Regions from separate parts of the Homo sapiens genome. Here region 2 is linked to region 1. A link means that fine-mapping ties the variant in region 1 to the expression of a gene that starts in the linked region. Tissue or cell type: thyroid. Region 1 holds a variant in brackets; the other region holds the start of a gene. All regions are shown on one strand. Distances are between the middles of the regions. Region 1 has its middle 99 kb from the start of CHRM3. Region 2 holds the start of CHRM3 (cholinergic receptor muscarinic 3).

Evidence for each region.
Region 2: it holds the start of CHRM3, and the variant in region 1 is fine-mapped to the expression of CHRM3 in thyroid (GTEx, PIP 0.97).

What each region holds. Positions count from the first base shown.
Region 1 is chr1:239,279,685-239,296,197 of GRCh38, reverse strand. No RefSeq gene overlaps it. Among named protein-coding and RNA genes, the nearest start is that of CHRM3, 99 kb to the left of the region's middle. RefSeq lists a silencer at 8,555-8,849. The variant C/T (reference allele first, on the strand shown) is at 8,666.
Region 2 is chr1:239,379,168-239,395,680 of GRCh38, reverse strand. CHRM3 (cholinergic receptor muscarinic 3) reads right to left here and starts at 9,113. Exons shown (of 7, transcript NM_001375978.1): 1 at 8,454-9,113. RefSeq lists enhancers at 7,390-7,890, 7,891-8,391.

The DNA of each region.
Region 1 (16,513 bases):
AAACCTCTAAAAAATAGAGTGGCTTTTGTCTTAATAATATGAGAGTCTGTACAAACTACAATGAATAGGTACAGATGGACACACCTTCAGTTTTATTCTATTAAAATCCTGAGAAAATGACTTTTGTGAAGTGAGGGGAAATATTTGGAAATGTTCGTGACATAACTTGACTAAAGTAGGGTTACATATAAATGTAAAAATTTTAAAAATGGAAGCATAACAGCAATTATGTCTCCAGTAACATTTAAACAATTTTATTCCTTGAGGACAAAATACAGTCTCTTCTGAAAGAAACTGGTGTATTCTTTTGGACTTGTTTAACAGAGACTTAAATATAAATGTCTTCTCAGCATAGTGGGTAGGTCAAACAGAAAAATAAGATTGAGACAAAGGTCAAGATAGCTGACAGAACCCATCTGAGGGGGTGGATCATTGTTATTTAAAAACGTAAAGAAAGTAGGGCACAGGGAGCTTGAAAAATGAAAATAAAAATTCAGTGCTTATGCTGAAATAAAGAATAGCATAAGCTGTCCAAAACAATTCTTCTTTTCCTAAATCAGACATGAAGACTAGAAAAGAGAATAATTGTACATTACTTTTGTCTTTCATTCATCTTTATTGTCCTTTTTCTCATTTTAACTTTGTCTTCTTTGCCCAGGCTTTCCTTTCCATGTCAATAAATGCTTACTCTGATTTTCATTTATTGTAGAAATGAGGTTAAGTCCAGAGAAATAATTTATGCACTAATTCATTCACTTGTTTTATACCTTTCCAATTTCTACAAATACTTCTTGAGTGCCTTCTATGTATCAAGCACTGTTTTAAGTGCTAGGAAAAGTGTGGTAAGTAAAACAGACAAAAACCCCCGCCCTCTGGAGCTTATGTTCTAGGGAGGAGAGAGAACCAATACATTAATTAAATAACTAAAATATATAATGGGCCACATGGTGATATGTTTTACAGAAAGACATAAAGTAGGAAGGAGGTAAAGGTGGTCAGGGGAGTTTCATCTCCCTAGAGACCATCAGGGAGGGCTGTTCTAGGAAGATAACATTTGAGTCAACATTTGGCAGCAGTGAGATAATGAACCATGCGGATAATTGGGAGTAGAATGTTCTAGGCCAAGCTTGTCCAACCCAAGGTCCATGGGCTGTATGTTTCCCAGGACAGCTTTGAATATGGCCCAACTCAAATCCATAAACTTTCTTAAAACATTACGAGATTTTTTTTGTGATTTTTTTTTCTTTTTAGCTCATCAGCTATCATTAGTGTATTCTGTGTGTGGCCCAAGACATTCTTTTTCTTCCACTGTAGCCCAGGGAAGCCAAAAGATTGGACACCCTTGTATCTAGGCAGAAGGAATAGCAAGTATAAAGGATTTTGCCTGGGATATTTGAACAGCAGTGAGGAAGCTCTAGTGTATCAGAGCGATACACAGAGGAAGAGTAAAGGTAATGAGCTGGAGGTGGGGTGTGAAACCCTGAAAGACCCTAGACTTTTGCAATAGGCTTACCTTTTATCCGAGTGTAATGTGAAGCCATGAGCAGATTTTGAATCACAGGCTCACATGACCTGCCATGTTGAGCACAGGCTGAAGAGAGTGAGGGCATCAGTTAGAAGACAGGTTGAGAAGCCTCTATGACAATCCGGGTAAGAGAGAACGGTGGTTTGGGCCAGGGTGGTGACAGTGGAGTAGGTGTGAGCTCTGCATAGATTCTGAAGACAGGGGTCAGAGAACTTGCTAAGGGACTGGCTATATTACAGGAGACAAATGAACAGAGCTGGAAATGACTCCAGGGATTTTAGCCTGAACAACTGCAGGAATGGAATTACCTTTAATGAAATGTGAAAGCCTGTGCTAGGAGAAGGTTTGAGAGAAGAGAAGACTCAGGGCTCATGTTGGGACAGGCTAGGACTGGGACATGCCAGTGGAAATGGCAAGTAGGCAGATAGATGTCAGAGGCTGGGGTTCAGGGAGATGTGTGTGCTGAAGATAAACATTTGGTGTTTTTAAAAATTTTTATTTTTCTTTCTAGTGAAGGGAGTCTCACTCTTGAAAGGAAAAAAAAAGAAATTTGGGGTCTGTCAGCATGCAAATGGTTTGTAAAGCCACGGAACTGGAAGAGATATTAAAGAAAGATGAGAGTGAATAAAATAGAACATACTTAAAGGACTCTCATACCTCATGCAGGACTCTCATACCCAGCAGCATGAATCCAGCAGGGGAGGTTCACCTGGACCAGAGAGAGGCGGATAAGCAGAGACCAGAGCAGTTGTAGAAAAGTTGAGAGCATGTGATGATGTCATGACAGCTAGCTGGACAGAAAGCGTTTCAAAAAACAAGGAGAATCAATCTTGTCAAATGCTGCTGAGAGTTAGAGTAAGATGAAGACTGAGAAGTCAGCATAGGTTTTACCATAAAAAAGAAATGAGGCTTGAGGGTAATTCACAGTCTAGCTGATTCCAACAGGCAAAGTTTTATGACACGGTTATGGGCAAAGTTCCAAGGTAGCACAAAGGAGGTGGACAGCAATTTGGACAGAGGGCAATGGTGAAAAGAGCAGAGAAATTTTGATACGAACTTGTAAGTGTTGACATGAAAAACTGTTATGATCTAAGGCAAACGTTTGAAAATATTGTGCAATAAGTGGCCAGGAATAAATTATTTTTTTTCTTAGAGAAAGTTAGTCTGGAAAATGTTTCTTTCTTTTAGATTTGTTGGCAGTTCTTTCATGAAACACTGTCTTAAATGTTCCAATATACTTGAAAAGGTGGGTAGTCTGCATAACTGCGGGGTGGTCAAGTAGGTTGATAATATTGGCCAATATTTCTATGTTCTTAATGATTTTCTGTCTATTTGTCCTATCAATTATAGAGAAAGGGTTGTTGAAGTTTCCAACTATAATTGTGGATTCTTCTATTTCCTCTTTCAGGTCTATCAGTTTTTGCTTCATGAATGTTGAAGCTCTGTTATTAGGTTCATAAACACGGGACTTTATGTTGTCTTGATGCGTTGACCCCTTTATCGTTTTGAAATGACCTTCTTTATCTCTGTTCATACTCTTTGCTGGGTAATATATGTTGTGTGATATTGCTACAGCCACTCTAGATTATTTTGGATTAGTGTTAACATACTGCATCTTTTTCCATCTTTTATTTTTAACTTTCTGTGTCTTTATATTTAAAATGGATTTTGGATTCTTGTTGGCAGTTAATAGTTGGGTCCTGCTTTCTTCTCCAATCTGAAAATCTCTGTATTTTCATTGGAGTCAGTAGAGCATTTATATGTCATGTGAATTTTGATATACTTGAACTTAAGTATGTCATTCTACTATTTGTTTCCTATTTTTCTCCAGTGTTCATTGTTCAATTTTCCCTCTTTGCTGACATCTTTTGAACTCACTGAGTATTTTTATGGTTCTATTATACGTGCTCCATTGGCTTTTGAACCATAACTCTTTATTGTATTATATTAGTGATTTCTTTTTCTTTAGGGTTTACAGCATACATCTTTAACTTACTCCAGTCTACCATAAAGTGATATGATACCACTTCCCTGTGAACTTTACAAGAATATACTCCTGCTTATCTCTTTCTTCTTTGTGATTTTTTTTGCTTATACATTTTACTTCTGATGAATGTTACAAAACTCACAATTCATTGTTACAATTTTTGCCTTAAACAATCAATTATTATTTAAAGAGATTTAATTAGTGAGAAAAAATTCTATTTATTCACATAGTGACAATTTCTAGTGCTCTTCTTTTCTTGTTGTAAATTTGGATTTCCAGGGGCTGTCACTTTTCTTCTTCCTGAAGGACTTTTCTTTTTTTTTAAATATATCTTACAGTGCAGGTCTGCTACTGCTGAATTATTTCCATTTTCTTGTTCTTAGAAAGTTTTTGTCTTTGCCTTTGGTTTTGAATTTAATTTGGTCAAATGTACATTATTATGTCGGTTGAAATTTTTTCTTTCATTCCTTTTAAGGTTTTGCTTCACCATCTTCTGGTTGGTCTTATTTCTACAAGAAACTACTCTCATGTGTGTTTTTGTTCCTTTGCATATAATTCAGTTTTTTTCTGTTTGCTTTAAGGTTTTCTCTTCATCACTGATCTTAAGCAATTTGGTATAGTTTCCTTCTTTATGTGTGTGTTTTTGGTAGGGGCATAATTTGAATACAGACAAGATGAAAATTTAAAAATGAGAGATTGAATATATTAGAGAGGAACAGAAGAAAAAGGAATCATCCATCATTGAACAGATACTAAGAGAAAAAGACAATTGAGGTCTTAGAGAGTTTTGAATTTAAGAGGGAAAAGAAAGCAGAAGAAAACAATCAATTTATTTAGGACTTTCCTGTGTACATTGCTAATTCAATAACCCATTGGCCTGTGATTACTAAGTGAGCGAAATTAGGTTCAGGGATTTATGTTCAGGTACTGTGTATCTAAATGAAGTATATCTAATAGTCTTTTTACTCCAATCAGTCAAGCACAGGAAGGGATTGAGCTTGAAACTGGATGCTTTCATTTTACACAGAATGAAAGGAAGTAAATGTAAATGAGTACCAAGAGTTTTATGACTGGAGGCAGAAAGAAATCAAAAAGCTCATATCAGATTTTATCTGCAGATGAAGATCCTGCATGTGTATACCTGGGGTCTTGGGGTGATGGATAGAGGATTTTTGATCAGTTATTACAGGAAATAGAAAAGATGACTGACTAGAAATAAATAAAATAATTATGCTTGTTCAACTTCTAAATACATTTAGGAAAAATTTGCTGAGCCCAGTGGCTCACGTCTGTAATCCCAGCACTTTGGGAGGCTGAGGTGGGTGAAGTGCTTGAGCATAAGAGTTCGAGACAAGCCTGGGTAACATGGAAACACCCCATCTCTACAAAAAAATATAAAAATTAGCCAGTTGTGGTGTCACATGTCTGTGGTCCCAGCTACTCTGGAGGCTGAGGCAGGAGGATTGCTTGAGCCTTGGAGTTTGAAATTTCAGTGAGCCAAGCTCACACCACTGCACTGAAGCCCAGGTGACAGAGTGAAGCTGTCTAAAAAAACAAAAAAATAAACAAATAAATAAGAAAAGAAAGAAAGAAAGCACAAGTATAAAAATAAAATAATTAGCACTGTGGACTATAACTGAAAAAATACATGAAAATTATGATTTGTGTATAGTATTTGCCTCTGCACTTCATTGTTGGATATAACTATTTTAGTTTTACCAAGAAATATGGTGGAAGCTTTTGAATTTATTTTAAAATTGCAAATCTTCTGATAAAATAGCAGATATACATCCATTTGGGACTGAAAATACAGGCTTTTTCTTATTTAATGCAATAACTTTTTTCTCAGATATCTCATTTTGAATTTTAGTAAATAAATTATAGTCCAAGAAGAATGAACCTTTTGAAGTATTTTGAAATCAAAAGGCAATTGACTTAAAAATATTTTCTCAAATCTATTTTTAAAAATTGATTTTCCTTCTATTCATGACCAATGATGCTTACAAAAGAAAATTGTTTTATTCAAATGTTTTAAATGAATATTTTAAATAAATTGAGACAGTGAGAATTCCATCTATTTGCGGAAATATACATTTATCCACAAAATAATGGCCTAGAAATGTACTAGAATTGAATGAATGTACTAGAGAAATTCATGATGATCCTTTAGTTTATATTATGAAAGAAAATAAATAAGCAAGCAAGTTTTAAAGTGTTGACTAGGGAATGAAATGTAAGAAATCACTAATGTTCTGTGTAATGTAGTAGGGAAGGAATAGGCAAACAGGGATATAAGTAAAGGCTTTACAGAAGACCTGGCATTTGAGTGCTGCCTCAGAGGATGATTAAGCTTAAATCAGAGTTATTAATAGGAAAAGAAGCTGACACACAATGAAAACAAGTAACACACTTATAAAGTGGTTACAATGTGTCAGGTATTTCCGAAGTACTCTGAATCTAACAGCTGAGGTAGGTACTGTCATTACCATAGTTTCGTAGGTAAGGAAATTGAGGGGAGCTAAGTAACTTGCACAAGTTTTCACAGCTAATAGTGATGAAGATTCACACTGTAACATAAAACATGACAGAATGAATGGATTCTTCTCGAATATTCTCGAAGGTAGAGATTTCAGGTAACTATATATAAAGTCTAAACATAAGCAACAACCTGTGAAGTAAACAGTACTTATTATTCCCAGGTTATATACTATCACATGAGAGACAGAATTGAAACAAGAATTCTAGTTTCAAGCTCTGTATTTGTTCTTTTTCGTTTGAATGTTGACCCATGTACCACTCAGTGGTTATTTAATTTCGCCAACAAATAAATCCTACATTTATTATGTTGTAGATATTCTCCTGGGAACTCAGGATTCAAGGTAGAATGAAATTTACCATTTATGAGGATCAGAGAAATAAATATATTACTACACATAAACTTAAAAAATACAATAATAATTCTGAAAAGGAACATAAAATGAAGCAATAGAGTGTGGCTGGAGCAAATTTAGACTGGATGTCTCAGGCAGGCATCTCCAGGGATGCGATGTTTGCTCTGAGAGATGAATCAGGAGAAGAAGGGATGATACAGACAAACAGAAGAGTCCAAGCAGGAAGAACATGATTTTAAGACTAAGGCAGAAAGCCTAAATGTGATCAAGGTGCAGAAAATGAGCCAGTGTGGCTAGAATTAGGGAAGGGAGGGAGAGTGGAAGGAGGAGAGGAAGCAGAGTTAGTCTCTCAGACCATATGCAACCTGGAGGCCACGGGAAAGCATTCAGTGTTATTTGTAATTCTGATGAGAAAGCTCTGGAAATTAGTCATTAAATGGGCAGTTATAGGTGAGTATTTCCAAAGGCATACATGCTAAGATTTTCATATAATCCATATAAACCACTTTTCCTGAATGCATTCTTCAGAGGCTTTTCTTTCTATAAATAGGAAATTCCAGAGCAATTAATATATCATTATAATCAGCACACAGAAGAAGAAAAACCAAAATGCAGTGGGATCTCCAAGCACTGGGAAAATGTAGAGAATCCATTAGAACAGTCATGTGCAATAATACAGACTTGCATAGTTCTGGAAATTCAGAGTTTAAACTCTAGTATATTGTGTGCACATAGATTCATAAAATCTTAATGTTAGAGCTCTAATGGAACTCAGTGATCATCTCATTTTATAAATGAAGAAATTGGAGCCCAGCCAAGTCACTCACTTGCCCAGGGTCATAAACCTCATTACACAGAGTCAGAATGAAATTATTCCTGTAAGTAAGATGCCAAGGAAGGGAAATAGAATAATCTCTCCTTTTTATTCATTGACTTTGCCAAAGCATTTCATTCTGTACTATAGTAATTCATTGAGGCTGAAGCTGGTATTTTGTACAACTCAATGATTATTTCATCTACAATGCTCCCCTTTTCCCTCTCTTGCCCTGGGGAGGCTGAGCATCTCATTCATTTACCCACTGAAAAGCAGAAATGCTGCTATTATTACTGCTTACATTAGACACTTTTTGTACCTGGGTCATCTTTGCTCGTCCACCTTGTTATTCTATGTTTGGTCTGACCGCCACTATGCAAATGCAACCTCACATACTATGCCTCAGCTGTATCACGTATTTCCTACTTTTTGCCCTGGGAATTCTCTGCTGCTCCCACATAGGTGCCTATAGGGACCTACTCAGGCATTCTGAGGTGAGACAAACCAGGAAGTAAAAAAAAAAAAACCCTTGACCAAAGAGAAAGGAGAGTTGGTGGATAAGTATGCCCTTATTTAATGACTAAGGTGAACAATTCTTTTTTTTTTTTATAGCATTAGGAGATATACCTAATGCTAAATGACGAGTTAATGGGTGCAGCACACCATCATGGCACATGTATACATATGTAACAAACCTGCACGTTGTGCACATGTACCCTAAAACTTAAAGTATAATAAAAAAAAAAGGTGAACTATTCTGAGGGCCATTTTTCATGGCTTGAGAAGTTGCCATTATTAAGTTTCTTTTGTGATTAAGTCATTTCCAAGAGAATGGGAGAGGAATCTGTAAACTGGGACAGTAGAACTAACCATGTCAGAAATGGACTGTCTGAAAAGGGGAGAGAGGTGGCAAAAGATGATCCGTCTTCTGTACTTGGTTCAGGTCAACGCATCGTGTCTCATGTGAGTGTGTCCAACTCAGGCCATATATGGGAGCATAACAGACACATGTCATTTCCTCTCTCAACATCATTTCTAATGTGGCCCCTAAGAGAATGGTATAATCAATGTGTGTTTTCCTTTTTGCATAACAAAGCATCTAATAAAATTTATCATGACATCGTTTGTGGATAAGCATTCAATCTATGAGCTATATGATAGTGCTCAACCAAATTTATAGTAGTTGGAATAAATGCATACTATAAATGTAGTTTAATGATTTAATTCTTTCATTTTAAAAACTAAAATCATATTACGTGCCAGGCAATAGTCTAAACACCGGAGATACAAAAGGGAACAAGACGTTATCTCTGCTCCCAAACTTATCATTGTTTAGTGGTGGACGTAGGTAAACAAACAAAAAAATGACAATTCCATAACAGTTTTAATGAGGAAATGGGAGCACAAAGAAAGAACACTTCAACAATCCTCTGAGTCTCAGGACAGGC[C/T]TCCCGGATGAGCTCAATACTCAACAAGAATGCAGGAATCTTGGAGGCGAGAGAAGGGTGAGGCCCTTCCCAGAAAGAGGGGAAATATTTTGCAAGCCTAAAAGAAATGAAGAAGAAACAATCAGATTATGTTTGTAGGGAGCTGTAATCATACTAGTGTCATTGGGGTGTAAATTTTGAAGAAAAGATGAGTTGAGAGGTGAGGCTAGAGAGACAGGCAGAAAAGAGATAAAAGTAAATGGGAGTGAAAGAATGATTAAGAGCAGAGCAGGGGAGAAAGAAAGGCTTTAATTTAAATGCAAAAATGAGTTCTTCGTAACATGGGCAATGGGAAGCTAAGCCATTGACAGATTTTTGAAAGGAAGAGTGGATGTAATAAGATATTAGTTTTAAGATGATCATTCTTATGGTTGTGCATGAGATCAGTTTGAGGAGGGTAAGACTTTTATCTTCATAAGAATAGACTGTGTACAATTTCAAGGGTAAAAGCTAGGGTTGAAGGCTGAATGGGAGATGCCAAGTGGAAAAGCAGAGAGAACAAAGGTAAGGAATTTGAGTGAGAAGGGAAGGATAGAGATTTTATGTCAATTAGATGAAAACTTAGGTGAGAGATAGGAATAAATAATTTTAAGTCATCCTTATGGTTTATAAAATTATATTTTAATTTACAAACTACACAAACACTTTATTGAATAAGTGATCAATGGAGAAAAAGACAAAAAATCACATAAATATTTTACCATCTAAATGTAACTGGTCTAAAAATATTGATCTATTTCAGTCTAACCTAACTTATGCCTATTTTATGTAAATATAATTGTAGTTTTTAAATATTTTTGGATCCTGCATGAAAGTACTATCCATATTGGTACGTAGTATTTATGAGAATAAATAGAAGTGATCATACAGTCAATTGGCTTATGGTGGCATCTAAACTACTTTGGGGATACAGACATGCAACATTTTACTGTTATTTCAATCACTGCTTTCAAGTCTTCTGTGTCAAATCTCCCTTCTTGGCTGGGTCCCAACCACCTTGTTGCCATCTAGTACTGATTCTGTAACTCTTCTCATTTTCTATGTTTGAAATTAGTGAGAAGTGCTTAAAATGGAGGGGCTTGGCATGCTCTGAACAAGTCCTCTCCTTTCTTGGGTTCCCATCCCACCAATCTCAGAGGCTGTGGAGGAGGGACAGGTTTTGAAAAGGCCAAGGCCTCTATGAATGAGTGAGGTCCAGCCCTCTGCTCATTGGTTGTCTTGCTATTCCTCCAATTAATTGTGATGCATTCTGTGTAGCAGCAGGTGCCTGAAGGTCAAGTCCGTAGTATGGGTTCTGGGTCTAGCTCTGTGTTTTTACTTCATTTCTTCTTCTGAATTCTGTTGCTGGATCTCTTTGCCATCTAGGTAGCACTTAGTTGGGTTAAGAAAAAAAAAAGTCAGCAGAAGCTCAACTACATATGTGTCTTTCAATTCAATGAAAAAAATCAAAGGCAGATCCTCAAACTAAATACATCCCAAATATATAAGTTGCTGGCTATGTTGAATACAATCAGTCACAAATTGACCTCTCCAGCTAAATCAGCTTAAAATCTTTGTAAAGAATAGACAAAAATACATTTCTCTCTTCTCTAAGGGGCAGGGGGTTGCCTAATTTGTATTCACACATTGACAATTTTATATGAAAGTCCAAATTGAATGAGACTCCTGGGGAAGACAGCAATGATGTTTTCATTTTGATATTACAGGGTCAAGAGACTTGAACAACTTGCAAGGAAAAAAGATGCCCTAATATTAAGGCTTCATGAAGCCATGCAACATAGTTTGGCTCTGTGACCCCACTCAAATCTCATCTTGTAGCTCCCATAATTCACACATGTTGTGGGAGGGACCTGGTGGGAGATGATTGAATCATGGGGGTGGGGTCTTTCCCATGCTGTTCTTGTGATAATGAATGGGTCTCATGAGATCTGATGGTTTTAAAAAATGGGAGTTTTTCTGCACAAGCTTTTTTTTTTCCTGCTGCCATCTGTGTAAGATGTGATTTGCTACTCCTTGCCTTCTGCCATGATTATAAAGCCTCCCCAGACATGTGGAACTGTAAATCCAATAAACCTCTTTCTTTTGTAAATTGCTCAGCCTCAGGAATGTCTTTATCAGTGGCATGAAAACAGACTAATGCAGCATGGGTAGGGAAGTAATTTTAAGGAGGATAGAGGTGAGATCCTCAGCCCATCTTGTGATTCTGGTTTGTAGATCACAGAGAAGAGATAATAAATTGTGATGACGTACTTAAGTCCTTTCTGGAAGGAAAGTTAGTAATACTTTAGTATTAACAAGCTACCATTGGTTAAACATGCAGCAGGCACTTTACATATATAATCATTAAATTATTCTGCAAGATGGATATCATTTCCATTTTACTGATGATGCTCAGTTAAGTAATTTGTTCAAGACTACAAAACAAACAAGGTCTGTATTTTCCTTTATATGATCCAGTGAAGAAAATATTTTATTTCTGTTACTATTGTATTTGTTATCTAAGTTTTAGTTTCCCCTTACCTACATCTCAAGATCTGTTTAGGGGAGATGATAGATGTGTGCATTCAGAAACGAATGTGTATTCAAAATATTTTGTTTCCGAATGTGTAATATTTATAGTAAACACATTTTCTTCTCTGTCAAAGAGAAGAACAGAAGGTTCAAGTGGCTGAAGGAGAAAGAGGTACAGAGAGTGACCTCCAAGGAAAGTCGATCAGACTGACTTTTAACTGGAACGAGTGGAGAAGGTAAGCTCATAAAGAACTGGAAGTACTGGGAGAAACAGAGGCGCTCCATCTTCCGTGGCCAGGGGCAAAGATGATACAGGTGACACCAGGGCACCAGGCAGGGACAGTCAACAGTTCTAAAGTCTAGCCAATTCCCAGCCACACAGATGCACCCAGACATAGAAACTACACCATAAGCGGGAGCAGAAAGAGGGGCAGAAGAGAATGACAAAAGAATAAAGTTAGTGGATGCTTTTCTTTTTCTGACCTCCTCCATGATGGCTTAACTATTCAAACAGCAAAATTGACATTTCAAAGAAAGAACTAGTGACAGTTTGGTCCAGTCTCCCCAAGGGGTAGTAAAGGAAGAATTGTTTTGCTGAGAGAGTTGAACAAATATTTTGAAATTACAATGAAAAAGAAAAACTAAGGCTTTCAACACATCTGAAAACAGAGCATACCAAAATGAAGGAGTTACTGGCTGATTACTGAATGTGAAAGCAAGCAGTTCACAAATAGACAAAAATTAAGAAAATTTTTGCTGTTAATAAAAAATTATTGTTCCCACATAAGCTTAACAATTGCCTACCTGAAATTTTCCTGACTCTCTGCACATACTTGCATCTCTGAAGATGGGTGTCAATACCTAACTTTTGAGAATATGAAGAGATAATTTTCATAAAATGAGGTAAATCTCTGAGTACAGACTCATACATAAAATCGCCTTCCTACAGCAAAGTCAGAAATTCAAAACATATTTGATTCGTAGTAGAAATGAAATCAATCAAAAGAGCCTATAGGTGACCCTTGAACAACATGGCTTTGAGCTTTGAAGGTTCATTTATATGCAAGTTTTTTTCAATAACCATATTGCAAAATTTTGTGGAGATTTGTGACAATTTGAAAAAAACTCATAGACAAACAGCATAGCCTAGAAATATCTTAAAAATGAAGAATATATTATGTATGTCATGGATGCATAAAATATATGTAGATACTTATCTGTTATGTCATTTACTACCACAAAACATACAGAAATCTATTATAAAAAGTAAAACTTTATGAAAACTTATGCACACAAACACAGACTTGTATATGGCGCCATTTGCAGCAGAGAGAAATGTAGACAAACATAAAGATGCAGTATTAAATCATAACCGCATAAACTTCATTGTAGTGCATCCACTGTAATAATTTGTAGCCATCTCTTGTTGCTAGTGTGGTGAGCTCAAGTGTTGTATCTGCTTAAAACGTTGTGAGTGTCTGCTTAAAACGCCTAGTGAAGCCAATCATCTCTGCGTGAGTAGTTTATCTTTCCAGCAAATTGACTATCACAGTAAAAGTGGTCTCTTATAGTTCTCAGGTATTTTTCATTGTGTTTAGTGCAATATCGTAACCTTGAATAACACCATGGGAGCCATACAAAGTGTGACTAATGATGCTGGAAGTGCTTCCCAAAAGCAGAGAAAAGTCATGACATTATAAGAAAAAGTTGCAGTGCTTGATGGGCACCACGGATTGAGGTCTGCAGCTGTGGTTACCTGCCATTTCAAGATAAATGGATCCCACGTAAGGACCTTTGTAAAAAAGAGAAAAGGAAATTCATGAAGCCATTGCTGCTGCTATGCTAGCAGGTGCAAAAACCTTGCACTGTTTGCGAAATGCATTTTTATCTTGTGTCCAAATGCAGCTTTTATGTGGGTGCAGGATTGCTATAAAAAGGGATACCTATAGACTAATAAGATTTGTGAAAAATTGAAGCCATTATATGACAACTTAAAGCAAAAGGAAGTGAAGGATCTAAAGCTGGGGAATTTAATGCCAGGAAAGGATAACGTGATAATTTTAGAAAAATGTTTGGCTTAAAGAAAAGTCAAGATAACAGGGGAAGCAGCTTCTGCTGACCAAGAGCCAGCAAAGAAGTTCCCAGATGCCATTAAGAAAATCATTGAAGATAAAGGATATCTGCCTGAACAGGTTTTTAACGATAAAAGTTCCTTATTCTGGAAAAAAAAAATGCAAAGGACATTTATTAGTAAAGAAGAAAAGGGAGCACCAGAATTTAAGTCAGAAAGTCATAGGCTCACTCTACTGTTTTCTGCAAATGCAGTCGGGTTTATGATTAGGACTACTCTTATCTGTAAAGCTGCTCACCCCTTGAGACTTCAAGGGGAAAGATAAACCAGCTGCCAGACTTTTTGGTTGTACAAGAAGGCCTGGACAATAAAAATCCTTTTTCTGGGTTAGTTTCACTGATGCTTTCTCCCTGAAGTCCGGAAGTACCATGCCAGTAAGGGATTGCCTTTTGAGGTTCTTTTGATATTGGACAATGCCCCTGGCCAGGCAGAACCCCAACAGTTCAACACTGAAGGTATCAAAGTGGTCTTCTAGTCCCAAATATATCTCTAGTTCAGCTTCTAGATAGGGGGTCATAAAGATTTTAATGCTCATTACACATGATACTCTTTGGGAAGGATTATCAACGTCATGGAAGAGAACTCCAATAAAGAGAGAACATCATAAAAGTCTGGAAGGATTACCCCATTGGAGATGCCACTGTTGCTACAGAAAAAGATGCAAAAGCCATCAAGCCCTACACAATGAATTCCTGCTGGAGAAACTGAGTAACGAGATTTACAACAGCATCAATCAAGGAAATTATTAGAGAGATTGTGGATATGGCAGAAAAAAAAAGTAGATGGAAGGCTTTCAAGATATGGATCTTAGAGAAATTCAAGAGCTAATAGACACCACATCATAGGAATTAACAGAGGTAGACTTGACGGAGATGAGTGCATCTGAACCAGTATCAGACAATGAGGAAGAAGAAATTTAAAAAGCAGTGCCAGGACCGGGCACAGTGGCTCACACCTGTAGTCCCAGCACTTTGGGAAGCCAAGGTGGGTGGATCGCTTGAAGCCAGGAGTTCAAGACCAGCCTAACCAACGTGGCAAAACCCCGTCTCTACTAAAAATACAAAAATTAGTTGGGCGTGGTGGCACATGCCTGTAGTTCCAGCTGCTTTGGAGGCTGAGGCAAGAGAATCACTTGAACCTGGGAGGAGGAGGTTGCAGTGAGCCAGGATCATACCACTGCACTCCAGACTGAGTGACAGAGCAAGACTCTGTCTCAAAAAAAAAAAATTGACAAATTGATATTAGATAATCTGGCAGAAGGGTTTTGATTATTCAAGACTGCTTTTGACTTCTTATGACATGGATCCTTCTAAGATATAGACACTGAAACTAAAGCAAACAATGGAAGAAGGATTGGTACCATATAGAAACATTTTTAGAGAAATGTAAAAGCAGAAAATCAGATAGAAAATACAATATATTTTTGTAAAATTATAGGAACTGTGCCTGACTCTCTTACCTCCCTTCTACCTCCTCTACCTTTCCTGCCTATGCTATCCCTGAGGCAGCAAGACCAACCCTTACTTTTCCTCTTGCTCAGCCTACTCAGTGTAAGGATGATAATGAGGGTGAAGATCTTTATGATGATTCACTTCTACTAATTGAATAGTAAATATATTTTCTCTTCCTTATGAATTTCTTAATCTCATTTCCTTTGCTCTAGCTTACTTTATTGTAAAAATACAAGATATAATACATATAACAAAAAATAAGTGTTAATTAGCTGTTTATATTATTGGTAAGGATTCTGGTTAACAGTAGGCTATTTGTAGTTAAACTCCGGAAGAGTCAAAAATTATACACAGATTTATGACTGTGTGCTGTGTGGGGCCTCCAGTGCTCCTAACCTCTGCATTGTTCAATGTCGACTATATTTGTTTTTTTGGGATTTGTGCAGCTTCATACCAAATTCGACATTAATATTGAAATTAGTGATCATTTTGTTGATAATTTTAATAGTTGCCTTTTTGGTAATTAAAGTTTGGAGGTTTTTATAAGTCAGGATTCCACCAGAGAAACAGAATCAGTAAGAGATTGGTGCACACACACACATACACAAACACACAGATGCATAGATGCAAACATACATAGAGACACATGTGCACATACACACATAAATTTATTTCATAGAATTGACTTATGCGTTTGTGGGGTATGGCAGGAAGAGTCTGAAATTCATAGGGTAGGCCAACAGCCTGGAAAGTCTCAGGTGGGAGCAAACCACTGAGAGGCAGAATTTCCTTTTTGTTGGGGAAACTTCAGTTCTGCTTGTAAGCCCTTTCAAATGATTGGATCAGGCCCACTCACATTATAGAAGACAATCTCCTTATCTAAGTCAACTGACTGTACATGTTAATCACATCTCTGAAACCCCTCACAGCAACACTTTGCATTACTGGCTACTATAGACTCTCTATGTTGGCACTTATCCAAGTTGACCCATCACAGTTGTGCACTCAAATGTACATTTAGAATTTCACTGTCAGTTTCCATAAAAATATAACATTGCCATTGAACCAACAGAAATTCAAGGTGCCTAAAAAATGTATCTTTAAAGGTGTGGGGATAATTACCATATATAGAGGAAAGGCAGTGAGTCATAGTCTAAAATGACATTTCTTCCTATTTTATTTTTATTTGGAAAATTTGGTGCTCCCCAAGTGCATAGGTTTGAAATTGCAGACTCCTCAATTCAAAGTACACCATCTCATTAGTTCATATAAAGATGCTGGCTTTCCATTTCATTTTTCCCTTGTGTATTTTATTTCTCATTGTTCACTGGAAACAACTTCCTTCCTTCCTCCCATTAGACGTATTCTATAAGGTACTTAATATATGCATTATTATATTGGTTATATATGCCTCCTTTAATAAAGAAGTATCATTCATATGCGTATGTATTTTAACATGTATTAAATTATGCTATACATTTTATTCTATTTTATTTTATCACTCAAGGCTATGTATTGAATTTCTATCCAGGATGCTTCATACTGCTACATACTCTTTCATCGTATGCATTCATCCCATTTTCTTTTATCAATTTTTCCAGTTATGGACAGTGTGGCTTCCAGATTATCAATATCACATGCAAAAATTAGAGTCATAGACTTTTGTGTACACGTCTCCTTGCGGATCTTAACAAATATTTTCTGATAAATATACAT
Region 2 (16,513 bases), 99 kb before region 1:
GGCTGGTTAGAAATGCAGATTCTCAGGCCCCAACCCAGCCCTCATGGATCAGAGTCTGCATTTTATCAAGATCCCTATGTGATCTGAATGCACATTTAAGTTGCAGAAATGATGAATTAAGATATTGGTAGCAGGAGGGGAAAGTAGCCAAGAAGGTTGAGATCTTACTTGGTTGAATCATTAGAATTCGGTACCTGGCTAAATGTAGGAGGTGAGGGAAGAGAATAAATCAAGATCACTTGATTTATTCATAACATTTGAGCTGTAGGATGGTCATGCTATTCATAGAAATAGGAACCCCAGGAGGGGAACAGGATGAGGAAGAAGGAGGGGAAGGCTGTGCTATCCAGCAAGCACATGGAAATGCTCCTTACTGAAGCCAAGTGACCCACATGGAAAGGGTATTTGAAATCGTGAAGACAGAGGCAGGTACAAAAGGAGAGGCAACGGAAGAGTATGGGAGTCAACCAGGGAGAAATTGCTGGAAAGCCCTACACTCTGCAGAAAATAGGGGTGGGGAACAGGAAGAAGAGAAAAGAACCAGAGGAGAGAAGAGAGCTAGGTAGGTATAATTCTCTGAAAATTAAGGGAGTTTAAAGGGATTGCTAAGAGATTAACCAGGACAGACAAGGAAGGGCTACCCGTTTTATGACTAAGAGGTTACAGGTGACTTTTGGAGAAGTCATTGCTATAAACCTCATGAAGGTGGATGAGAGGAGTCAAAAGATTTAAAGTCAGAGGGTAATGAGATTAGGGGAGTGTGATTGCTGTTCGGTGAGTGTAATTGAAAAGGTTAAGAAAAATCATGAAAATTTAGAAGTGGCACATAGGACCAGGTTGAAATAACTTTAAACTTCTCAACTTTAAAGATTTTCTTGTGGAAGAAAGATCAGAAGTGTTCTCATCATAATTCTCAGAATTATTAAGAAGGCAAATAAGTACAATGAGAATTAGATTTTTGGCTCAATATAAAGGGGATCTGCATCTCACTGCTCTGTGAAAATGGAATGACCCCCCTGGTGAGTGTTAATTTCTCAAACATACAGACTGCACAGTTTAACACAAGAGAGAGGTCCAAAGCCAAAAGTTGTTCATTAATGACATCTGCAGTGGTCTGAATGGCGGTCCCTCCAAAAGATGTGCCCACCTCCTAATCCCCAGGTTCTGTGATTACCTTATATGACAAAAGATGTGATGTGATGAAGTTAAAGCTCTTGAAAGGAGGAGCTTATCCTAGATTTTCTGGCTGGGACTTCACTGCAATCACACATATCCTTATAAGACAGGCATATACAGGAGGAGACAGTGAAAGAGGTGGAGGAGGCAACGTGACCACAGAAGCAGAGATTGGAATGATATGCTCACAAGTCAAGGAATGCAGATAGCTACCAGGAGCTGAAGGAAGAAAGGAAGGATTCTCCCCTAGGGTCTTTAGAGGAAGTGCAGTCTTGCCAACACCTTGATTTCAGACTTCTGGCTTCCAGAATTGTGAAAGAATAAACTTCTGTTTTAAAACCTAAGAAATTCACGCAACATCTAACATCCCCTTCCAACCCAGATTTGTTTAGTTACACTCACATTGATCATATGCTCTGAAAAGCAGAGCCCTTGACTTACTGTGTATCCAAAACAGAATGTCCATGGTACTTTGCACATTAGATGATACTGATATGAAAGATGTGATAATGGATGTATATACAACACCTATGTAAATGAACATAGGTGGATTAGATATAAAGAGATAGATAATTGATAGGTAGATAGATGGAATGATTGAGTCATTTACTCATTCTACTCAAACATGTATTTATTATATATTTACTTATATACTCTCATGAAGGTAACTTCTTTGGAGAGAATCAAAATAAATACTACCTGGGTTATCCTTGAGCATCAAATTTTATATTAAAAATGGTGAGTGCCACTAGTATTCAGAGTAGAGGGAAGTGATTTGTAGTTGTTTAGTCAGACCGATTTTCAGTTTCTAACATTCAAATGAATCAAGGGATTTAAAATAATTAGTCACAGGGAAAAACAGAATGATAGCTGCGCTCAAGGAAAGCTGGAAGAGTTTGGCTGGTCCTTGCATGATGGAAAGGATCTGGGGTGAGGAGAGAAGAAAGGAGGACTCCATATAAAGAAACATCATGGCCATTCCAGATTCCCATCACCTCTCCCTTCACACAAGCTACTGCATGTGGCATGTGTTATCGGGCATGTGAGAAAGCACAGGAAACACGGCAGGAGGATCATCACGTCTATTTCAAGTATGAGAACTTCTTTTCAATGTAAATCGTTTGAGAGACCTCCCACAACAGAAGTTGTGCTTTTAGACTATTTTGCACTAAGAAAATTGAAAAATCACAAAAAAGACTGTGTTCAATAACATTTTTAAATGACTATGGATATACATTTAAATATAGTCATCAACATATTGTCAATTTGAAGCCAAAAACCCAACAATATTTAATATTTATATGGGATCTTCTTTCTTTCTTTCTTTATTGAAGAGATGGGGGTCTTGCTATGTTGTCTAGGCTGGAGTACAGTGGCTATTCACAGGTGCAATCATAGTACATTATAACCTTGAACTCCTGGCCTCAAGTGATCTTCCTGCCTTAGCCTCCCGAGTACCTGGGACTACAGGTGTATGCCACTATGCTCAGCCAAAATTTATATGGATTGTGAGTCTACAAAATACCACTGGATTAGGTTTCAATGGAAGTGAGAGCTAGCTCGATGGAATGTCAAATGGCTGTGGGCAAGAATTGGCCTGTATGTATTAATAGTTAGCAGTAACCAGGTTTCCCTCCAGTCTGGATCCCATGGGCAATTCTAGTGGGAGAAAATGTACTCCAAAGTGACAAGTCTTAAAAAATGTAGACAAAGGCTGTTAGCAGCTCCTTTTTCCTACAGTTTAGTGACAGAATATTTTTATATGTATCTATGTCTATAGCCATAGCTACCTATGGTAAATTAGAAGGCTTCAGTAGAAGAGCACCAAAACACTTCACAGCCATAAATGCAGGGAAGTACACACTTGGTAGCCCCTCTCTCTGGGAACTCTCTCCAAAACAGGCTGAAAGTATTTCACCTTGGTTTAAACTCACCTGAATTTTATCTGAACAGCAGTAGTCGGCGGATATCCTGCCTGAACCAGGATGTCTACATTAGCACCACTTCCTGTGCTAGAGGTGACAGAAGGTAGACGATGTCATGGCTCAGCTGGCATGCCAAATTTCAAGGGAACAGTGGGGACAGGAAGCAGGCTAGGACTGGGCTAGAACAAATGACCTAATGAAGGATTAATTCTGTAGTGGATAGTCAGCCACTCAAATTACATTGCTTGGGAGAGGTGTGGAGAACTGAGATTTGATCCTGCCAACAATGACAGACAAGGAGAATTTATTTGTCAAGTGGAACCGGGCACTACAAGTCTCAGGCGGAAATGATGCACTGTCAGGAGAGGAGCTGTGCCTTAGGTCCAAGGGTTTGTCACACTGAGATTGAATCAGAGACAGAATAGAAAGAAAGGGGTCTTGCTCCTGGAGAGAAGTTCTTGGCAAGGGCGAGGCTGACTGCCAAGGTCATAGCTAAAATTTTCCCAGGCCAGACATTAAATCCAGTACTGAAAGTGCAAATTGAAAACTCAATAAAATCCTAGTCCTACGAAATGGTAAATATGACAGGAGTTAGAGAAACTGAGGTGAGGGGGGCATGAGAATTGCTAGAGCTCACTAGGGTTAGGACAGACTCTGCACTGGTTGTGGAATCAGAAGGGCCAGGCTCCTGAGTCCCATGCAGAGCAGGCTTGGAAAGGCAAGGTCTCAAAGCCCACAAGGCATCTGCCAGCTACTGTTTATCAAATTGGTTTTTGTTTTTTGTTTTTAATTTTTGGCCACCATTGTTTTTCTCAAAGTGTTCATATTCCGGATGGCTTCAGGATGAACTGGCACAATTGGTGAGAAGCTGGCAGGGGCTCAGAATATTCCTTCTGTTGACTTCCTGTCATCACTACTGGACCCTAGGTCTGTGTCAATGTGGCAAGCTGCAGCTGCAGCCTCAGCAGAGGAAGCTAAGAAGGTGCACGTCAGCCAGAGTCCTTGGCCTTCAGGAGGGGATGAGCGGGAAGTTCCAACAGGTGGGAGAATGCAGATCGCCAGCCTAAAAGAGAGAGCCTGCCAGAGGCTGGGGAATCTGCAAGCTGCCAAAACTTCTGGATAGAAAACAACACACAGAGGCCAAAAACTGAGCCAGAGGGCCACTACATACTGGCGCTCAGTGCTGTCCATCATGGTGTACTGAGGGGGCTCTGGGTTCCAATCAAGCACTGCATTTCAGAGTTTGTTCAAAAAGCACATCCACATGCACTGGATTCTCAAAACCAATCCATGGTATGGACAGGGCAACTACTATGGTCTTCAAGTGTACAGTGGGGAATGAAATGTTTGAGGTCACACAGTTATCACATAAGCCACATTATGGTTTAATATTTTCAATTGCTTCACCAAACCAAAATTACTATTATGATGATGATTATGTAGAGACAGAGTCTCAGACTCTCGTACAGGCTGGAGAGCAGTGGCATGATCCTGACTCACTGCAGTCTCGAACTTCTGCATTCAAGCTATCTTCCCACTGCATCTTCCTTAGTAGCTAGGAATACAGGTGCACGCCACCATGCCTGGCTAAGTTTTTACACTTTTTGTAGAGATGGGGTCTGGCTATGTTGCCTAGGCTGATCTTGATTTCCTTGCCTCATGTAATCCTCCTGCCTTGGCCTCCCAAACTGCTGCCATTACTGGCATGAGCCACTGTGCCCAGACCAAAATTATTTTTATTTCTTGCATTGAAGACAACACTAATGGAGATCTATACTGTCTGGGGCATGCAACTGCTAGGGAAGGTAGCAGGCTAACAGAGCTCTCCAGGTGCTAGTTCACTGATGAAAAGGGAAGCCTTTCATGAGGCAGAGAATTGCTTGAACCTGGGAGGCGGAGGTTGCAGTGAGTCAAGATCATGCCACTGCACTCTAACCTGGGCGACAGAGTGAGACTCCATCTCAAAAAAAAAAAAAAAAAGTGAGGGAAGCCTTTCATACCTGCACACCCTCTCCGTGGAGGGTGGGCAGAGGGAGCAATGCAGTGATGAGTGATTTGAAGAAATACTCTGCTTAGCATTTGATCTGAACAAAGATATATTCCCTAATGGAGAAGATAGGGCCTTTCAGACACCAGAAACTAACTTCTAATTTAACTGATTTTGCCTCCTGTCATATACATTAGATTATCTCTTCATAAAATTAAAACTTTCCATTGATGTTGAAATTTTATTCCAAAGTTCTGAAAGGCTAGTAATTTTTCAGAACAGGGCTTCTGCTGGACTTGCTGAACTTTATAGATGAAAAATATATTGCATCTAGGAAAACACTATATTAAACAATTAAGCATAAAGGCACATTTTATTATGCTGATTAACTTTTAAAAGTAAACGTGGTAGAGGGATTTGATTACAATTTTATTAAGCTCATAGATACCTTTTACAATAGTCTTATGTAAGGAGAATACATTTTAAATTCACAAACATAAAAGACAACATCTCTAGTTACTCACTGATCCTCCAAAATCACACTGTGAGAATAATGCTATTAGTCATCATATGATATAAAATCAGGTTCCATAAGTGAAGGACAGATACACTTCTCTGCATACTGATCAGTCTCCATCTTCATATGATTCACGGTTCATTCATCTCCTATCTAAAGTGCCACTACACCACAGCTGTTCCCAGTATAAACTTCCCGGCACTGCAAACAAGACCCAATTTCTTAATAGTCACACTGGAATCGTCCAGGCCATTTAGCAGTAAGCAACTGAGCTTGCCAATGTTAACAAAGTTATTAGGCAAGAACAATATGTTGGCTGGGAAAATGACAGAGATTTTAACTAAAAATCTGAAAATATGTATTACTTTATAATTTACAAATACATAAGGCAACTTTGCTTTTAACCATATCGTTTAACTTTCTGTCTATTCAATTTACAAGTGTGAATCTAAGAAATTCTATGTCTGCCAATTTCACATTTTTTCCATGCCCTCTTTCAACAGGTTGCCTGCAATTAAAGGCTAAAATATCATTAAAAGAACTTCACATTTTTACATACTCTAATTTATAACAAATTTTCTTTGTTAAGAAATTAAATCATTTGTCTTTATAAGGAAAAAATGAGAAGGTACACTCTAAAGAACTTTTACACATGCCTAAATAATCTTCAGAAGTAAATAATACTTTTGAAGTGACATTTTACTTCCCCCTACCCCAGAATAAAAGTAGGGTACTGAATATTCATCATAGATTTCTCTAAATTTTAAAGCAAACTTTCCTAAATAAGCTTAAATGTAGGTTTAATACAGAACTACTCATTATAACACTTGTTCTTTCTTTAAAACTTGACCAATTCCACATTTGCTCCTTTTCCCAAATTACATTTTTCCCTTACAATAATTTTCCACACAGAAAATTTATAAAGATTTTTCAAAGTCTACTTTTTATCTCATTTTCTTTTTCAACTGTCATGTTCATTCGATTAATGACGCAACGTTATTTAAAAAACAATATTTCGACATTGCTATTTTCGTGCTACATTCGATCTCATAATACCCCCCAACCTAGAGAAACATTCTAAATCCGACCGGCAATGTCATTATTTTTAAATTAGTAATTAAGCGAACGTTATATTTCCATATGGAAACCACTACAAAAATAACGTGCTTTCTAGCCCAACAATAGCTAATTATGTATTAAGCTAATTGAGACAAACCATGTAAACAAAATCTAAAGATAGACTATTCGGCGGTAGAAGCTATGATGTAAACCACATTTCTGTGGCATGTTGGAATGCACACTGAAGAAGCAGGCATGTTCCTTGCACATGTATACTTCGGGATATCAGCTCTTATAACAAGAGGGTGCACTCAACACCTCGTCTATCCCACAATATTTGGAACAGAAATACCTTAGTTTTTTATTAACGTGCTACCACTACAATACGCTTATATGCAGGTATCTGCTCTAGGTTTAGTTTTCCCCTTTCTGAACTATATGTTCATAGTCTCTCTTAAGTAAATACATGGGCATTGTTTTAAACACAGGAAATAATGATGAATGGTTCATGCGATATAACGATCTCACAATATGAAATTATCTGGACTATATAATCACTGCACCCAGTTAAAAATTATTTTTCAAATAGTAACCTACAAAGGTCAAAATGGGGGGAGGGGACAGGTTATCTGTCTTGGAACTCAGAGGGCAAGAGAGAAAGGAAAAGTCTGTGCAAAGCATATGGTGAAATAACCAGTGTTCTTAACCACACATCGCTTTGATAAATACATTTTTGTCCTAAAGAGGGCCGCCCTTTCACATTGCAAACACGGACACTGGCGGGGATCGAGGGGACATATCCTTGCAGCCTTTGGACAGGTTCCAGTAACACTTGCAGACAAATGAAGGTTTGCATTCTTGAAACCTATCCATATGGATGCAGTTCCCAAATCCCTGCTGCCTCTACCACTTCCAAATGCGTGCAAGGAGAGTCGGACACACGCACAAGCATGCAGAACAGGATCTCAATTCCAGCACGCACACCGCGAAGTAGACAAGTGAATTCTGCTGCTGGAGTCAACTGTCCGCCCGCCCCCGCCGTTTAAAAACACGCAAAAATTAACCTCGCTATTAGGAGGCTATGCTGAGGAAGTGTTCCAAAGAGGAGAACCGGTGCAGTCCAGCGGCCGCTGCCTCGCGAGTGCAGACTCTCCCCGGGTCAGTAAAGATGCGCACTAGGCTAGGTACCTTCGCCCAAGTGTTACTCGAAGTGCCAAATTTGCCTTCTCGCCCCCTGAAATGCAATCCGAACTTGCGGCCCCACTGCGAGGTTGGCGGGTGCCAGCTTTAGCCTTCTTAGAAATGACAGGAAACCAAATGGGGAGATGGGAGACAAACGCTCAACACACGAGTGCGCTCACAAACACACCCGGAGCCCAGTAGCTCCTCATGCTCGGGCACTTTGGAGCCTCAGATCCGGCAGTGGCGAAGAGAGAATCGAAGCGAGGGAGAGCGGGGTGGGACGTCCCCGACTCTCTCCCGGCCACCGCTCGCATGATTCCCGTCCCTTTCGGGGCACTTGAGTGCCAGCGGGCGTTCCCCACCCTCAGTCCCAGAACTCCAACTCCGCACCAGATCGCGCTGTCGGAATTCAAGTGCCCCCATCTTCCCCAAATCAACAGCCTCTCTCGTCCCTACCCAGCCCCTTCTTTGGACTCCAAACACAAGACCTCTCCTACCCGCGCCGAAAACTTTTTCCTCCTTTCGCAACGAGATAAGGCAAGAAACCAGGTCAGCCGCTACCGCCACCCGCTCTGCCCAGCGCCTGGGTGGCGGGCGCCGTCCCTACCTGGCAGCTGCGCTCCAGGTGGCTGTCCCACGCCGGTCTCCGCGCCTGCCCGGTGCGCGGGTGGCGTCCGCTCCACCTTCCCTTCGTCTCCTCCGGCTCCGCGTTCAGGGAGCGACTGTCCTTAAGATCGTGCCCCCCTGCCCGGAGCCGCCCTTCAGTTCATCGCCCGTCTTCCCAGAAGCGCTGCTGCGGCCCCGGCGGACTGATGAGGAGCCTGGAGATCCGCGATGGCACCGATGGCCCCGCGGTGTGCGCTCCGGGGTCTGAGAGCGCTCCGCCCGCGGGCAGCTGCGGCCGCGCGTCACATGCCGCCTCCGGGCAGCGGCCGCGGCACCTGCCCAAGCGGCAGCGCTCCCGGCTCGGCAGTGCCGCCCCCGCGCCCTGTGCTCCCCTGCACGCTCCGGCCCTTTCTGTTCACGCCCTTTTCCCTCTGTCTCCCGCCTCACTTTTTCTCTTCTTTCCGTCTCCTTCTTTATCGTGTATTCCCTTTCTCCAAAAGCAGAGAGAAGGCGCTCCAAGGGGGAGGAGAGGTCTTTTCCTCCCCACGAACTCTTCCTCTGCCTGGTGGTGGCGGTCGTGGCTACTGCTGGCCGCTCCTCCTCTCCTTCCTCCTCGCGTTCCTCCTGCTCCTCCTCCTCCCCGGACTGAGAGAGCTGGTGTAATGCACAGGCTGCGTGCTTGAGACCAAAACCTGCCCGGCTTCTGAGCATGCCCAGTTGCCCTGCCGGCGCCTAGCTCCATTCCCGCGTGCCCGCTGGGCTCCGCGTTCTCCGCCTGGCAGGGGGCGAGGAGATCCCAGGGTACTCCTGGGGTGGGTTGGCTGAAAGCGGAACACCAAGCAGGAGAGAGGGGGGCCTCACCCACCCAGCATGGCCTCACCTGTTCCCAAATTGTGCCTCCCGCGGCGCTTCAAAGATAGATTTTGCCGGTCTGTTAGTTTTGTTGTGTTCGCTTTTAAATTGGTTTCCCTGGACTGCTTAGAAGGACTGGAAGGAATTCGATTCCTTGGGCACAACTTATCGATGAGTGAACTTCAGCTCAGTTACAATATACGACTCCATGGCAAACCTTTCTCTAAGGAACAGTCTGATGCATCTACTTTTTGACATTTAGTGAGTCTGTTTCTGCAGAGCAGTGTAATAGAGGACGACTTGACTTTTCCCTCCCTGGACAGTTACACCTTGGGAGAAAATAAGACAAGCATCCATGAAGAAGACACTGACGTGCACGCGCGCGCGCGCGCGCGTACACACACACACACACACACACACACACACACACACACACACACTTTTTTAAATCAGAAAATAAAATGAAAGATATAACATTGCTAGCCAGTCTTTTAAAGCTCAAGAGGAATGAAAATCTAAGAAAGAAAGAAAGAAAGAAAGAAAGAAAGAAAGAAAGAAAGAGAGAGAGACAGAAAAGGTTATTATGTACTACTGCCAGCTAACTATGTAAGGAAAAAGTGGAGAGATACCAAATTTGAAAAGATACCAATGAGGCTGTCCCACGGCACTCTCGAGGTTTTGTTTAAAAAGCACATAAGGAAAGATAACAGAGGAATCTCACAAGAAAGGACAAGCATAACAATGATAACTGAAAAAGAAGAAAAGAAAGAAAAAGGAAGGAAGGAGGAAGATAAAAAGAAGAAAAAAGCAAGAAATTGAAGCATAGTATGAAATGAAATATTTAACAATATTAAAGGCAGCAAATGATTTTAATTCTATTTGGAACAAGAAGATAAATAGGAAAAGATAGAGCTCTTTGAAAAATTAAGTAATTCTAAGAGATTAGAGAAACACCAGTATATGAATTCCTTTCTGAACCTATATTCTTCTCTAGGTAGAACAATCTTTAGGAGAGAAGAGACTAAACTTTGCGTAGAAAAGATTGAGATCATGCTGGGAAAATAGCTAGTGAGAAAGCATGTGGCTACTTAAATTAATTAAAATATCTAGGCTTAGGTAAATTGCATCCAGGATACTAGAATAGTAATAATAATAACAATATTGTAGCCTTTTTATTGGGATACCTCTCAGAAGAAAATATAACAGTTACTTTCAGATACTTCTTTAATCTTTAAAACAATCAAATGAGTATTTTATCCTTGTGTACTAAAGGAGAAAGGAATTTAAAGGAATAATTTAATTGTCCATTATATAGCTAGTAAGAGGAACATGAATTCGGATTTAATATCTTTCCCATTACATAGAATTGTTATTTGCCTGTGGAAACAGGAGTAGCTTTGATAATATTGATCCATAAAGAACAGGCAAGGACCAAAAGAATGGACAAGTAGTGATTATGTAGTTTTCAGAGAAAGACAAAAGTTATTAATTTTTAATGAAAATATTCTGGTATGTATACAATGGTTAAGTTTGAGACTGGCCTCTGGCAATGTTCTGGAGAAGATACTGAAATAAATCATTTGTGACTAGTGAGAAAAGAAAAGGAAGCAACTACAATTTAGTAAAATAAATCATACCAGATTAAATTCATTTCCACTTGTAAATAGTCACTAAACTCATAATACAGTATTTCCTGATTTCAGCTAACCTTCCCATTATCATTATGGACAAGGTAAATGTAGATGGCATGTTTGTATCAAACAAATTACAGTTTAGACAGAGTTGCCTCCAGTTTCTTGGTAAGTGGATTCATGCTGGGCTTGAATAAGGTATTGGTCCTGACCTTGGTGCCCGATCATTCAGCAGATTTATCAAATTATATTTCAGAGGAAAATATAAATGGGATACTTAATAGATCTGAGAATGAACCAAACTGGAGGCAATGCTTATTTACAAGATGCCAAAAATCAGAAACCAAAGAGTATTTACCTTTGGATTTTCATCTAAAATGAAGGAAATCAGCTAGAACTGGAAAATACTTAGAAATCCTGCATTTTAGGTTTGTTTAAAAAAATACACAAGATAAGCAAAGGATTTATGCAGTTATGAAATGAGACTCTGGTTCTGGACAATTAGCTAATAGCACTCACTTGCCTTTCTACCATAAAATAGCTATAAAACCTGGAAAAACTATATCAAACATTTTTTACTTCTGAACCATAACCAACATAGTGCTGCAATTTGGGGTAACTGGAGGCACATGGAATGAGCCCATTCCCATGGATTATTTTTCCTCAGGGGATATTTTTTTCAGCAGAAGTTTTGGGAGGTTGAGAATAAGCAGAGAGCTGCAGTTTCACTGAGCAGAGGGCATATAGCTCAAGAGCTTGGAGCTATATAAAGTAACTAAGGTTTCTGGAGGTAAGCAAGGTGACAGAGAGGTGAGTACCAAGAGGCAGCACCGGAAGTCTGTGTGGCAATTCCTCTCAGTTCGTTAGCTGAATTGCTAGGCTGCATGTGTCCAGAGGCATTATTCTAGAGACCTGACAGATACAGTGCAGTGGCAGAGAGGCTGAAATTTGAGTGGACATTTTAGAGATCACACAATTCTGAGGAGATGTTGGAGTTCGGTTCCAGTCAGAATGGAAAGACTTTGGTGAACACCTCAGGCATTAGGATGAAACCCTTGAAGGATACTCCTTAGATAGAAGGATGATGTCCTAAGAGAAAGAATAAACTGAAATAGATTTGACTGAACGAAGCAAAAACTAGGCTTCTGTAGGGTTAGGGTGATCTACCAATGATTTAACCACCTGCTAGAACACAACTCAAAGTTTATGAGAGGAAGAAAACATAAGCTAAAATTTCTACAAATGCTGCATGCAATCAAAACTTACCAGACATGCAAAGAAGCAGAAAAGAGTACCTGATGGCAAAAAAAGAAAGAAAGAAAGAGAGAAAGAAAGAAAGAAAGAAAGAAAGAAAGAAAGAAAGAAAGAAAGAAAGAAAATACAGTCAATAGAGCTCAAGAAATGACACAGATTTTGGAACTAATAGGCAAGGGCTTTTAAATAACCATGAACTACCGTGGAGATGGGCAAAATGGATTAAAAAACAGAGCATTTCAGCAGGATATTAGGTTTCATAAAAATAATAAAATGAACTTTGTTGAATTGCTAAATCAAGAAGTAATTACATAGGTTTAAAAACCACCTGGATACTACACAAATAAACTGATGGTCTCATATAGAAATCAATAGAAAATATCCAGAGAGAGCAGAAAGAAGAGAGAGAGAGAGAGAGAGAGAGAGAGAGAGAGAGACTAGCAGAAACAACATTTGAAAAAATCATGGTGAAGAACTCGAAAGGTATTGATATGGTTTGGCTTTGTCCACATCGAAATCTCATCTTGTAGCTCCCATAATTCCCACATGTTGTGGGAGGGAGATAATTGAATCATGTAGGTCTTTCCCGTACTGTTCTCATGACAGTGAATAAGTCTCATGAGATCTGATGGTTTTAATAATGGGAATTTCCCTGCACAAGCTCTCTTCTCTTGTCTGTTGCCATGTGAGATGTGCCCTTTACTTTCCACCATGATTGTGAGGCCTCCCCAGCTACGTGGAAGTAAGTCCAATAAACCTCTTTCTTTTGCAAATTGCCCAGTCTCGGGCATGTTTTTATCAGCAGCATGAAAATGAACTAATACAGATATCAACCAAGAAATTCAAGAAGCTCAATGAACCCCAGGCAAAGAAAACCCCATCTAGGCCTATGAGAGTCAAATTGCTGAAAGACGAAAAAGAAAATTTAAAAACAACCAGAGGTTTAAAAAAATCACCTTTGGGGGAACAATATAAATGAACATTGATTTCAGCAGAAATATCATGGAAGGTAGAAGATAATAAATATATTTCAGGTACAGAAAGAAACAAATAAAAACTATCAAACCAGAATTCTGTGTCCATTGAAAAGAATCGAAAAATGAAAAAGATTTAGACTGACAAAAACTGAGAGACTTCATTGTTAGCTGACTATAAACTACAGAATTTACTCAGGGTTATTCTTCAAGCTGAAGGGACATAGTCTCACATTGAATCACAGAAATGTAAGCAAGAATAAACAGCCCCAGAAAGGGTAAATGATTGAGAATTTATAAAAGACTAACTGTTTGACACATAAAGAATAAGAGTATCTTGTGGGGCTTATACTGTTTATTAAAGTCAAATATAGAATAACAGCCTTAAAAGGATAAATATAAGATCCTTGCGTTTGATAATTTAAGGTAACAGTGTTAAGGATGATGTTTTAAGTGTAACCAATGAAAGAATGACATCAAAACGCACAACAAAAAAGGTAATACAGAAAATAAAATTGAATTATAAACCATACCTGACTGAGGTAAAAGAATGCAGGAAAAGAGGAATTAATGAACAAAGAACAGATAGGGCAAAGAGAAAATGATAATAAGATAGTAAATTTAAAACTCAACTGTGTTATTCATTACATTAAATATAAATGGCTGTGTGTGTGTGTGTAAATTAATAAGCTGATTCTGAAATTTTTATGTATATACGAGGAACCAAGATAAAACATTATTGAAGAATAAAATTGGATGTTTAGACTTACTATCAGATTTCCAAACTTATTATAAGGCTACAGAAATCAAGATATTATGGTATTGTCAGAATGAAAGTAAAATAGACCAATGGAAAATAATAGAAAGTCCAGATATAAACCCACACTTTTATTTTAATCTTAGCAGCCATCAAATCAGTCAATAACAGAGGAAACTAATTTATGGTGTTAGAGAGTTACTTGGTTAGAAGAGAGTGAAGAGAGTATTTACAAAAATGGGGAAATAAAAATACATGGGGTGATGGTAATGTTCTATCTTGAGCTAAGTGGTAGTTACTAAAATAAATTGATATGTAAAAATCCATCAAACTGCACACTTAAAATGTGTGTGCATTACTGTGTGTTTATTATACCTCAGATTTTCCAAATTGTATATTGAGTATTAGATACAAAGTACTAGGGCCCAGACATGATGGAGAACTGAAACTTAAGGAACATCAAATTCCTGCTCTCAAGAATGTGGATATCTGGTTTTGCAAAGTTTATTGAACCAAAACTTGGAGTTATTTGTTAGAAAACTTTCTTCCCATTGAGGGACTAAACAGTAAACAGATTACAGGAAGTAATAATGCCTTAGTACTCTATTTTCATTCTTCTGAGTTAACCTACCAGATTTAAGGATAAAGTGATTGATTGAAAAACACTTATTCTTTCATGAATCTCTTTACTTGCTTACTTGAAACCACTCTTTGGACTTTGCTAAATGCCAGATACTAGGTGGTGCTCTAGGGATACTAAGACATCAATCAATAGTTAAAGGATGTAGCTCTCCATAGAAGTCTTAGAAGATGGCCGGGTGCAGTGGCTCACACCTGTAATCCCCACATTTTGGGAGGCTGAGGTGGGTGGATCACCCGAGGTCAGGAGTTCAAGACCAGCCTGGCCAACATGGTAAAACCTCGTCTCTACTAAAAAATACGAAAAATTAGCTGGTTGTGGTGGTGCGTGCTTGTAATCCCAGCTACTCGGGAGGCTGAGGCAGGAGAATCACTTGAATCTGGGAGGCAGAGGTTGCAGTGAGCTGAGATAGTGCCATTGCACTCCAGCCTGGGCAACAGACGGAGACTCTGTCTCCAAAAAAAAAAAAAAAAATCTTAGAGGACAAGAATGGCTCTCTCAAACTTTTGAAGAAAGAATAAATAAATTATGCAGTTCTAGAAGAAGTAATGGGGATATAGGTGCAGCTCATGATGAGGAAGACTTAGCTTAACTTTCATAATGCATCTGTCTGGCCTAAGACGTGGTGAGCTTTTTATGTCTGAAAACATTCCAATATAGAATGATAATAATAATCACTTCTGACCCCCCTTTTTTTTCCTCTCCCTAGACTGTGAAGCAGAAACCCCATATTTTTCTTAGGGAAGTGGCTACGCACTTTGTATTTATATTAACAACTACCTTATCAGGAAATTCATATTGTTGCCCTTTTATGGATGGGGAAACTGGACAAGTGACAGAGCAAAATCCAAACACAGCTGGGGATTTCCCTCTTTTAGATGATGATTTTAAAAGAATGCTGCCAGAGAGATTCTTGCAGTGTTGGAGGACATATATGACCTTTAAGATATTTTCCAGCTCAGAGATGCTATGAATGTATCCTGAGTGCATGGATGGACCTCAGTTTTGCAGATTCTGTAGCTTATACAATTTGGTGGTTTTCTTTAGAAGAAAATAACACATTTATAAATATTAAAATAGGCCCAAGACCTTACAAGGGCATTCATACAAATGAGAGGCTCTGAAGTTTGAGTTTGTTCACTTTCTAGTTAATTATCTCCTGCCTGTTTGTCATAAATGCGTTTAGTAGGGAGCTGCTAATGACAGGTTCCTCCAACAGAGTGTGGAAGAAGGAGATGACAGCTGGCTTCCCCTCTGGGACAGCCTCAGAGCTAGTGGGGAAACTATGTTAGCAGAGTGATGCAGTGACCAAGAAAATAGCACTAGGAGAAAGCTGGTCCATGAGCAGCTGGTGAGAAAAGGGGTGGTAATCATGTATGCCCTTTCCTGTTTTATTTTTTATTGGGTTTCCTTTTGCCTCTCAATTCCTTCTGACAATACAAAATGTTGGTTGGAACATGGAGCACCTGGAAGTCTGGTTCATTTTCTCTCAGTCTCTTGATGTTCTCTCGGGTTCACTGCCTATTGTTCTCAGTTCTACACTTGAGCAATCTCCTCAATAGCTAAAGCTTCCACAATGCAGATTTTGTGATGACAAATTCAGCATCACCCAGCAGAACTTAGGTTTTTTTCTGTCCTCCGTTTCCTGACCTTTTTCTTCTGAGTGCTTTATGTCACCTCGTGAACCATCCTTTCCTTAGTCATCTACCTAGCAGTCCTGATTCTTTTGACTTGTCTCCCTACACCACAATAAATCACTAATTACTATGGATTCAATCCCTAAAATTTGCACAAACTTGCAAATAGATTACGGGTTGAAACTTAGAGATTTCAAACTTGAGAAAAAAGTTTAAATCAAGAAAAATGACCTTTACCTTGAGAGTAGAGGCAATGTCATTTCCAGGAATAATTATAATAATATTGTGTTTAATATTTGTATGTAACATTTGAATA